Linked DNA regions of Homo sapiens. The protein of the gene in region 2 interacts with the protein of the main gene of each other region in a biochemical or structural test. Each region holds a gene or a part of one and is shown on either strand. Other genes may lie near its edges.

Region 1 (3,822 bases), on a different chromosome or scaffold from region 2:
ATTTATTTTTGTTCTAACCACTCAAATCTAGGATAATTTTCAGGAAGACCCAATCCAGATGTCTATGATCATTTACAGCTGTCTGAAGGAAGAAAGGAAAATTCTGGAAAACGCCCAGAGATTTAATCAGGTACTTTTTTCTCATTGAACACATAAACTGTAATAAAATAAAAATGTATTCATTCATCAAATACTATTAGGGCCCATGTCAAAGCAATGATGAATATCTCTCTAATTTTATAGCCCCAAGAAGTGGGAGAATCAGATTTAGAGATTTTATAGAACCAGGCTTTAAGAAAGATCCTAATCTAATGGAATTAAGTTCTAACGAGGAGAGAGAACATATAAACAAGATACTTCTGGGTAGCATAAAGTGCTGAGAAGATAACATGCTGAATTCATGGAGTGGCTGGGAGTGGGGTTGTTCCTTTAGATCAGGGTCAGGAAAGGCCTCTGAGTTGCTGGCACAGGAATGGAAGCAGGCAGATAGAGGGTTCTTGCAGCTGTCCAAGGTAGAGGCAGTGGAAGCTTGCGCTCAGTAGAATCAGTGGAGGTAGGAAGAGGTGGACAGATTCAGGTTATGCTTTGGATGTGATACCAATATAGAAGGATCCTTATGTTGAAGGATTAGATGCAGGAGTGAGAGCAGAAAGTCAAGGATGGCTCTACAGCAGCTACTAGAACCCCTTGAAAAATGGTAATGCTGTACACGGAGCTGGGAAGGCAAGGAGGGGGCAGGGGCAGGAGTTTTGTAGGACTCAATAGGTTTGTGGAGAGAAAAGGAGGCTGATGGGAAAATCAAGGGCTTTGTTTTGAGCAACATCAAGATACCTATTAAATATTCAAGGCATCAAACAGTAAATGAGTCAGAGTTGTACTAGTATCAAGATTTTTGATCATTGTTTTATTAATCCTAATACAAACCTTCCTAGTTGTCAGGGTTCAGCAGAGTTTTGAATTTGCTATGGCATTTAGTATTCCTTTCTTGAGCACTGGGGTGGTGACAACAAGCCAACAGGCAGGCAGTGTGAAGCCACCATGTTATGGATTGTTCTGGAGGAGCCCATTGCTATATGGATGCCAGAGGACACAGTATGCATCCTGTGTGCATTTCACCAACAAATAACTACCGAAGTGAACTGTGTGACAGTGGAGAGGGAGGGAGTTTAGGTGTGGTGGAGGATGCCATTCTCCACACACTGCCTGAGCATTTGTCCCAGTCCTTGTAATCCTGTCACTTCCCTAGGCGTATAGTTCCCATCTTCTTGTCACACTGATAGCATCTTGCTGAACTGAGCATGTAAAGATACATATTGCTTATTCTAAACTCAAGCTGGCTAGCTCATCTGGTACCCAGCCTAGGGAACAAAGGTGTATATCAACGCTGGAGGAGAAGCTGGCCAGGTTGTCTCCTCTGAAAGAGGTGTGCCTGTCTCTAACCTGGCATATACCTGGGAGATTTTCAGCCGGCAGTTTTGATTATATGGGGCTTCCATCCTAAAAGTAGTATGCGTGGGCCTCCTCTGTATTTCTAATAGACTTGAAAGGACAGCCAGGAGCAAAGATGGGCAGAAGGACAACCTGTTTCCCCCAGCTGCAAGCATGTCATCCTCACATTTGGCCCCTTGGCCCAGAGATGGCATTGGCAGCAGAGTAGGTGACCCCTGCTCTCCCACATGAACCTCATCCCCTGGCTTTGGATCTTGAAGGTTTACCAGCTTTTGAGCTCCCTCCCCATTAAAAATGTAGGTAATCTGGGGATTGTTTTGAGCCTCTCAGAGGACACCTGAGTCCGTGAACACCTTTGCAAAGCCTTCTTGGGGTGTGAGGGAAGTTTCTGGGTGTCTGGGGATGTCAGGGAAAGGGAAAAGGCACAATAGGTGCCTCCTTTCCAAAGTTATCCAGCCAACTATTGGCTAGGTAGGTCAGAAACATTTCTTCACCATTTCCCCCCTTGTTGAAGTAACTTTATTTTATTAATACAGACATGCATCACTTAATGACACAGATACATTCTGAGAAATGCACCACTAGGTGATCGCGTTTTTGTGCAAACATTATAGAGTGCACTTACACAAACCCAGGTGGTATAACCTACCATACACCTACACTATATGGTAAAGCCTATTGCTCCTAGGCTACAAACCTGTACAATATGAAGTTGTACTGAACGCTATGGGCAATTGTAACACAATGTTATTTGTGTATCTAAACATAGAAAAGGTACAGTACAGATAGTGTGTAAAAGATAAAAGGTGGTACCCCCATAAAGCTCCATTCTAATCTTATGGGGCCACTGTCATATACGCGGTCCATCGTTGACTGAACCATTGTTATGTGGTACATGACTGTGTATATTCTATTCATGCTAAAGTATATGTGTATGGAATGGTGTGATGTCTGGTATTTGCTTCAAATAATCCCATTTGGGGACTAGAAGAGTAAGGAGAATAGGGATGAAACAAGGCCATCCATGAATGCTAATTGTTGAAACTGTGATAGGTACATGGGGATTCAACAGATTCAACAAGTTAAAAACATGCAAAATTCCGAGTTAGTTCAGATCATTTAGAGACCACAAAATTCTATAGACATGCCGAGATGGGAAATTATTGTTCCCATTGTTTTTTAATATAAGAGCTTTTAGAAAATACATTTAAGAGAATATTATGCTATACACACTGTAGTAGACTATAAATGTTTCGTGTGCTGTCTTACAGCACACTAAGTTTTTTTCTTTCTTTTTTTCTTTGTGGTGAAAAAGCTAGTTGCATGTCTAGACAAAAATTTAGGTCCATAGGGTCTGAAGGGATGGGGAGAATTTCTTTCAGGTGGGAGGGAAAGACATGAGGTGGATTCTAAGCTTCCTTTGCTGTTCCATCTTTGTGTTCTTAAGGACTAATGGTTACCATATGCTGAGTGCTTATCATGTTTCAGGCCCTGTGCTAAGCACTTTATAAACATTATTTCATTTGAGTAAATACTTTCGAAACTATCACTGAAGTTAGGTATTCTTATCCCCATTTTAAAGATGAGAAAACTAAGGTTTAGAGGTCAGGTACTTCACTCAGAGCCACAGAGCTAATGAGAAGTAGGTTTGGAATTTAAACCCAGTATTGTCCAACTCTAAAACTAGTTCACTGGAGAAGTCACTTTTCAGTTTTCTAATCTGTGGGATGGGATATGAGGGCTTTCTGGCTGGAACTTCTCACACCCATGGAGTGCCTATTCCCTTACTTGGACAACTGCTCACTCCATTGGAAAGGACCCCCTTCCTGAGCAGAAGACTTTTCTTTGCTCTGGGGTCTGGAGTAACCAAGTTCCCATCCAAACAAGGTCTCTAGAGGTACAGTAGTGAAACGAGAAAGTAAGAGTCAATGACAGCCGAAGTCCCTTCCAACTTCAGTGTTTGAAATTCCCGTGGTTTCAGTACTCCTGGTTTCTTAGAAAGTTAAAAAGTTAAGGACTCACTGTGAAAGTGGTATCAGTACTAAAGTGTACAGGAGCAGCCAAGCATCTGCTTAGCAGATGGGGGCAGGGTGGAGGGAAGCAGGGAGGGATGAGTGGAAGGGGTAAGAGAGCACCAAGGGTTTGAGTGACTTGGAGGGACTACTGCCCAAGTTGGAAGCAGGAGATTTCTTAGGCCCTGCCACAGTCACCAGGTTTTTCCACCAAGCATCTCCCAGCAAGTCAGTAGAAAGGGGATGTAGAAGCTGGGGATGTAGCTGCTGTTTTACAGCCATTGTTTATATCCCTGTTCTCTAAACCGAGCCTTGGTCATTTGGGAGGAGGCCTGGGAAGTCAGAATTCTCCAGTGGCCTG
Region 2 (3,822 bases):
TTCCTCTCTCTGACTTTAAAGTAGGTTTAAAGTAGGTTTTAGGCTTGCACTTGAGAGAGCTATCATCTCAGCCTTGGATTCTGCATTTAGCATGCTTCCTTAGAGTGTGTTTCACACCCAACTCCATAGTGATCATTTTAAAGAGCAGTTTGTTTCCTGAGGAAGCTTTTGCGGTTGACCAAGAGATACGTTATTGTTCGCAAACACCCACTTGCTTTATGTGGTTCTTCAAACTAAGAAATGTTCTTACTGTCTCTGTAATTCCTCCTCATTTCTCTTTCTCATGATGAATCTTTGTAGGGACAAAAATTCTCTAAAGCCTCCTTAGCCAAGTATGACTGAAAGCTGCAGCTAGGAGTGATTTATAAAATCACAGATAATTTCTTGTGCAAGCCTCCAAGGCTGGGACCCACACTGCAGCCTAGATTTTGTTGCGACTGTCAGTAAGAATGTTTTATGCAGGGACTTCTCATTTTAATCTCCCATGCTTGACCTGACTGATACCTTATTGAGGCGTTTTATTTCACATTCGTAATGTTCCTTTTCCTTGTTCGCAAGAGTATTTTTTCCCTTTAAAAGTTTATTCTCTTCTTTCAATTCATGTAATTCTTCATTTAGGCGTTCCTTTTCCTTCTGAAGTTAAGACCAAGAAAAGAAAATAAAAGTCAGTACAAGTCAAATGAGATGATATTGTAGGAATTCTGATATATCAGCCATGGCAGGCAGATTGAGGGGTCACCCTTCTGAAATACAATAAAAACAGGACCTGCAAGACTTTAAACTTAATGTTCCATTTGAGCAATATTCTTTGGATGCACACTAGAATTAGGATTGAAGGAATCTTTCTTTTATCAGAATTTACTGAAGTATCTTAGAAATTTTGTGACCCCAGGAAAAAAAAAATCAAAATTCCCAATTCTTTTTTTTTTTTTTAAAGACGAATTCTCACACTGTCTCCCGGCCTGGAGTGCAATGGTGTGATCTCAGCTCACTGCAACCTCCGCCTCCCAGGTTCAAGCAATTCTCCTGCCTCAGCCTCCCTAGTAGCTGGGATTATAGGTGCCTGCCACCACGCCCGGCTAATTTTTTATATTTTTTAGTAGAGATGGGGTTTCACTATGTTGGCCAGGCTGGTCTCAAACTCCTGACCTCGTGATCTGCCCGTCTCAGCCTCCCAAAGTGCTGGATTCCCAATTCTTACTTTCAATTATCAGACAAATGGGTCTGCAGGATAAGCAAGTCCTTATATACTGTCACTAGGTGATGGATAAGTGATTAAGAAAAATAGCTGAAAGTCTTAAAAAGAAAAAACTCTCATTGTGAGAAAACAATACTAAATATCTCAAAGCTCATTCCTGCATCATTCTGTATTAGAAAGAGGGAAAAGAGAATAATCCTTAGGCCAATAAGACCTTTCATTACAGATCATTATTTAGAGCACTCTATTGTTGTGATTATTATTTTTAAAAGGTAGAAATCAACTAGTCCAACTGCCACCACTCCTCCAATTTTAGATGACAATCTAAAATTGTCATCCAGAAGTGCAGTGTTTTAAACAACTGAAGGTTAGCTGCGTAAACATCAACAGGCTCTGGATTCAGACAATATCTCCTACCTCTTAATTTTGTATAATAGATAGCAAACATTTTGTGAAGTAAATTGGATTCTTAATGAGATTGAGATTTTAACCCAGTAAAATAAATATTGCAGAAAATAGGTAACTTGACATGCAAAAATAGCTAATATATGTGTTAAAGTGTGTTATTTGAGTAACTAATATTTCCCAATATGATTATTAAATTTAAGAAATCCGCTTTAGGTAATTCATTTTCTTTAAAAGGGAAAATATTTCTATTTGCTTTTATTTAAATAGAATGAACATATACACTTAGAAAATAAGCCAATTATTTTCTAATTTAGCATAATTTAAGAGAAAATTATTCCAATAAGATAATGGTCCCAACTGCATTGAGGGAAAAATTACTCAGATTCCTGGCTAGAGTGTAATTGGAAAAGGAAATGACTGCTACATGGCAGAAAGGGAGTGTTGCTAAACTCTGTTTTCCTGACTCACTGTGACAAAGACATCCTCAGCAAGATAGGAAAACCTGGACTGGCATTGTCTGCGCGAATTTCAGACATTGCCTTAAGATTTGTACATGTTTTAAAATATTGCCATTGCCTCACGATATCAGTGATAAGATTTCCCCTCAGAGTCTTTACACTTTGTTTTTTCTTACTATACCTAAAATAACGAGGGGCCATTAGAGTTTAAGGTTTCCTCCCATTTTCTACAATATTCATGAAGTCCAATAATTGAAAGTAAAACCAGGAAGAAAAAGTGTTCTTCAGGAAAAGCTGTCATCTCAATTGTCACCATCCAGTTCTCAGCAAGGGACTGATAGAGCTTTAGAATCTGGAGGTTGGGTTCAAGTCCTTTTTCATCAACGTGGGCAATTCAATTTGTTTACATCTCAGCTTTCTCATTTTTAATATAGCAAAAATAATATTTTGCTCACAGGTGGGCCAAGAATGTTAAATGAGATAATGAGGACGAAGGCTTTAAAAAATGTCATAAATTTATGGTGACAGAAGTAAGACCTCATATATAAATCTCTCTGTAAGCTTGAAAAGCTACTGCACAAATACAAGGTATTGCCATATTATTATTATGAACACTACTAATAAAAATAATAAATACGAATAAAAGCAAAAGAAAAAAAAATTTCTCCTAGGCTGAAATGCCCTAGAGAGTTAGCAAATTTATGGATCCGTTTTCTTCTTCCTGGAAGGGACTGGGGAATGACTGTCTGCCTATTTATGCAAACCAGGAGGAAGCCGGCAGAGAATCTCCTTCCTTCTTATTCTAGAGAAGTGACCCTTGTTCATGGCTCTTGGGGACTTGCGTAACCCATGCACCCTTGCACATCGGTCGTTGCTCAGTAGTGAGTTGATTTTAATAAAACGGTAGGTTTTCTACAGGAAATCCCCCCGCCCCTTTGCTTTTATTTGGATCCTCCGGGCTCGAGGACCCGGGCCCCGCCCACCTCCTCCCGCTGCAGCCGGTCCCGGGTCAGGTCGCGCTGCCTGTCGTCCTCTCTCTGCCTGTCGTCCTTTCTCTGCCTCTGATGCGGATCCTTCTCCCGCGTGCTGAGGAATCTTTCCGCGGCGTCCAGTTTCGTCTTCAGCTCTGCTACCTGAGGAGGTCGTTCAAAGACAGCTGCAGATACCTTCTCTGAAGCTCACAAGCCCCTGGATTTATTCCCAGGCTATGAACTTTGGCAGAAACGCCCCACCCCAGGACGTCCCCTAAGGAGAGGTTCTAGCTCCCACCGTCCCGAACACAGATCGGGATACTCGCGTTTCAAAGGGAGCTTGGCCTTGCACCAAAACAGCCTTCTTTTCTCCAAACCACCCAGCTCTTCCTTCTTTTCTCCAAACCACCCCTACTTCAGAGGGGATAAAAGACTTAGACCCCACCCAGGGGAATCTGTAGGTTTGTCATTCTATTCTCAACTCTCCAGGTGAGCCTAGCCTGGTCTGGAAAGGGCAATGAGGGGCAGCAGGTTAAGTAGCATATGCCTACACCAGAGAAAAACAGACATGGCCTTTAATTTATCAGTAATTTGCAGCACTTGACCTCCTACTAGGTGCCAAATCACTCTGATGACAGAGTGACAGGTCCTCAGAGTGGCCACAGTCCAGAGGGAGAATCTTAGAGATGGATGCATCTTCCAAGATGGAGATTATAGCCATCACTAACACTGTCTTCACACACCTGCAAGCCGTTCGAGAAAGCAGCTTAAGCATTCTCTCTGGGAT

Evidence for each region.
Region 1: the proteins of TNIP3 (region 2) and STAT1 form a complex in vitro, tested with the Homo sapiens proteins (one study listed by BioGRID).

Annotation. Positions count from the first base shown.
Region 1 is NC_000002.12:191,003,871-191,007,692, reverse strand, and holds part of STAT1 (signal transducer and activator of transcription 1-alpha/beta), read left to right. Parts: intron 1-31; coding exon 32-130; intron 131-3,822. UniProt on the Homo sapiens protein: Signal transducer and transcription activator that mediates cellular responses to interferons (IFNs), cytokine KITLG/SCF and other cytokines and other growth factors.
Region 2 is NC_000004.12:121,154,047-121,157,868, forward strand, and holds part of TNIP3 (TNFAIP3-interacting protein 3), read right to left. Parts: intron 3,198-3,822; coding exon 3,048-3,197; intron 634-3,047; coding exon 505-633; intron 1-504. UniProt on the Homo sapiens protein: Binds to zinc finger protein TNFAIP3 and inhibits NF-kappa-B activation induced by tumor necrosis factor, Toll-like receptor 4 (TLR4), interleukin-1 and 12-O-tetradecanoylphorbol-13-acetate.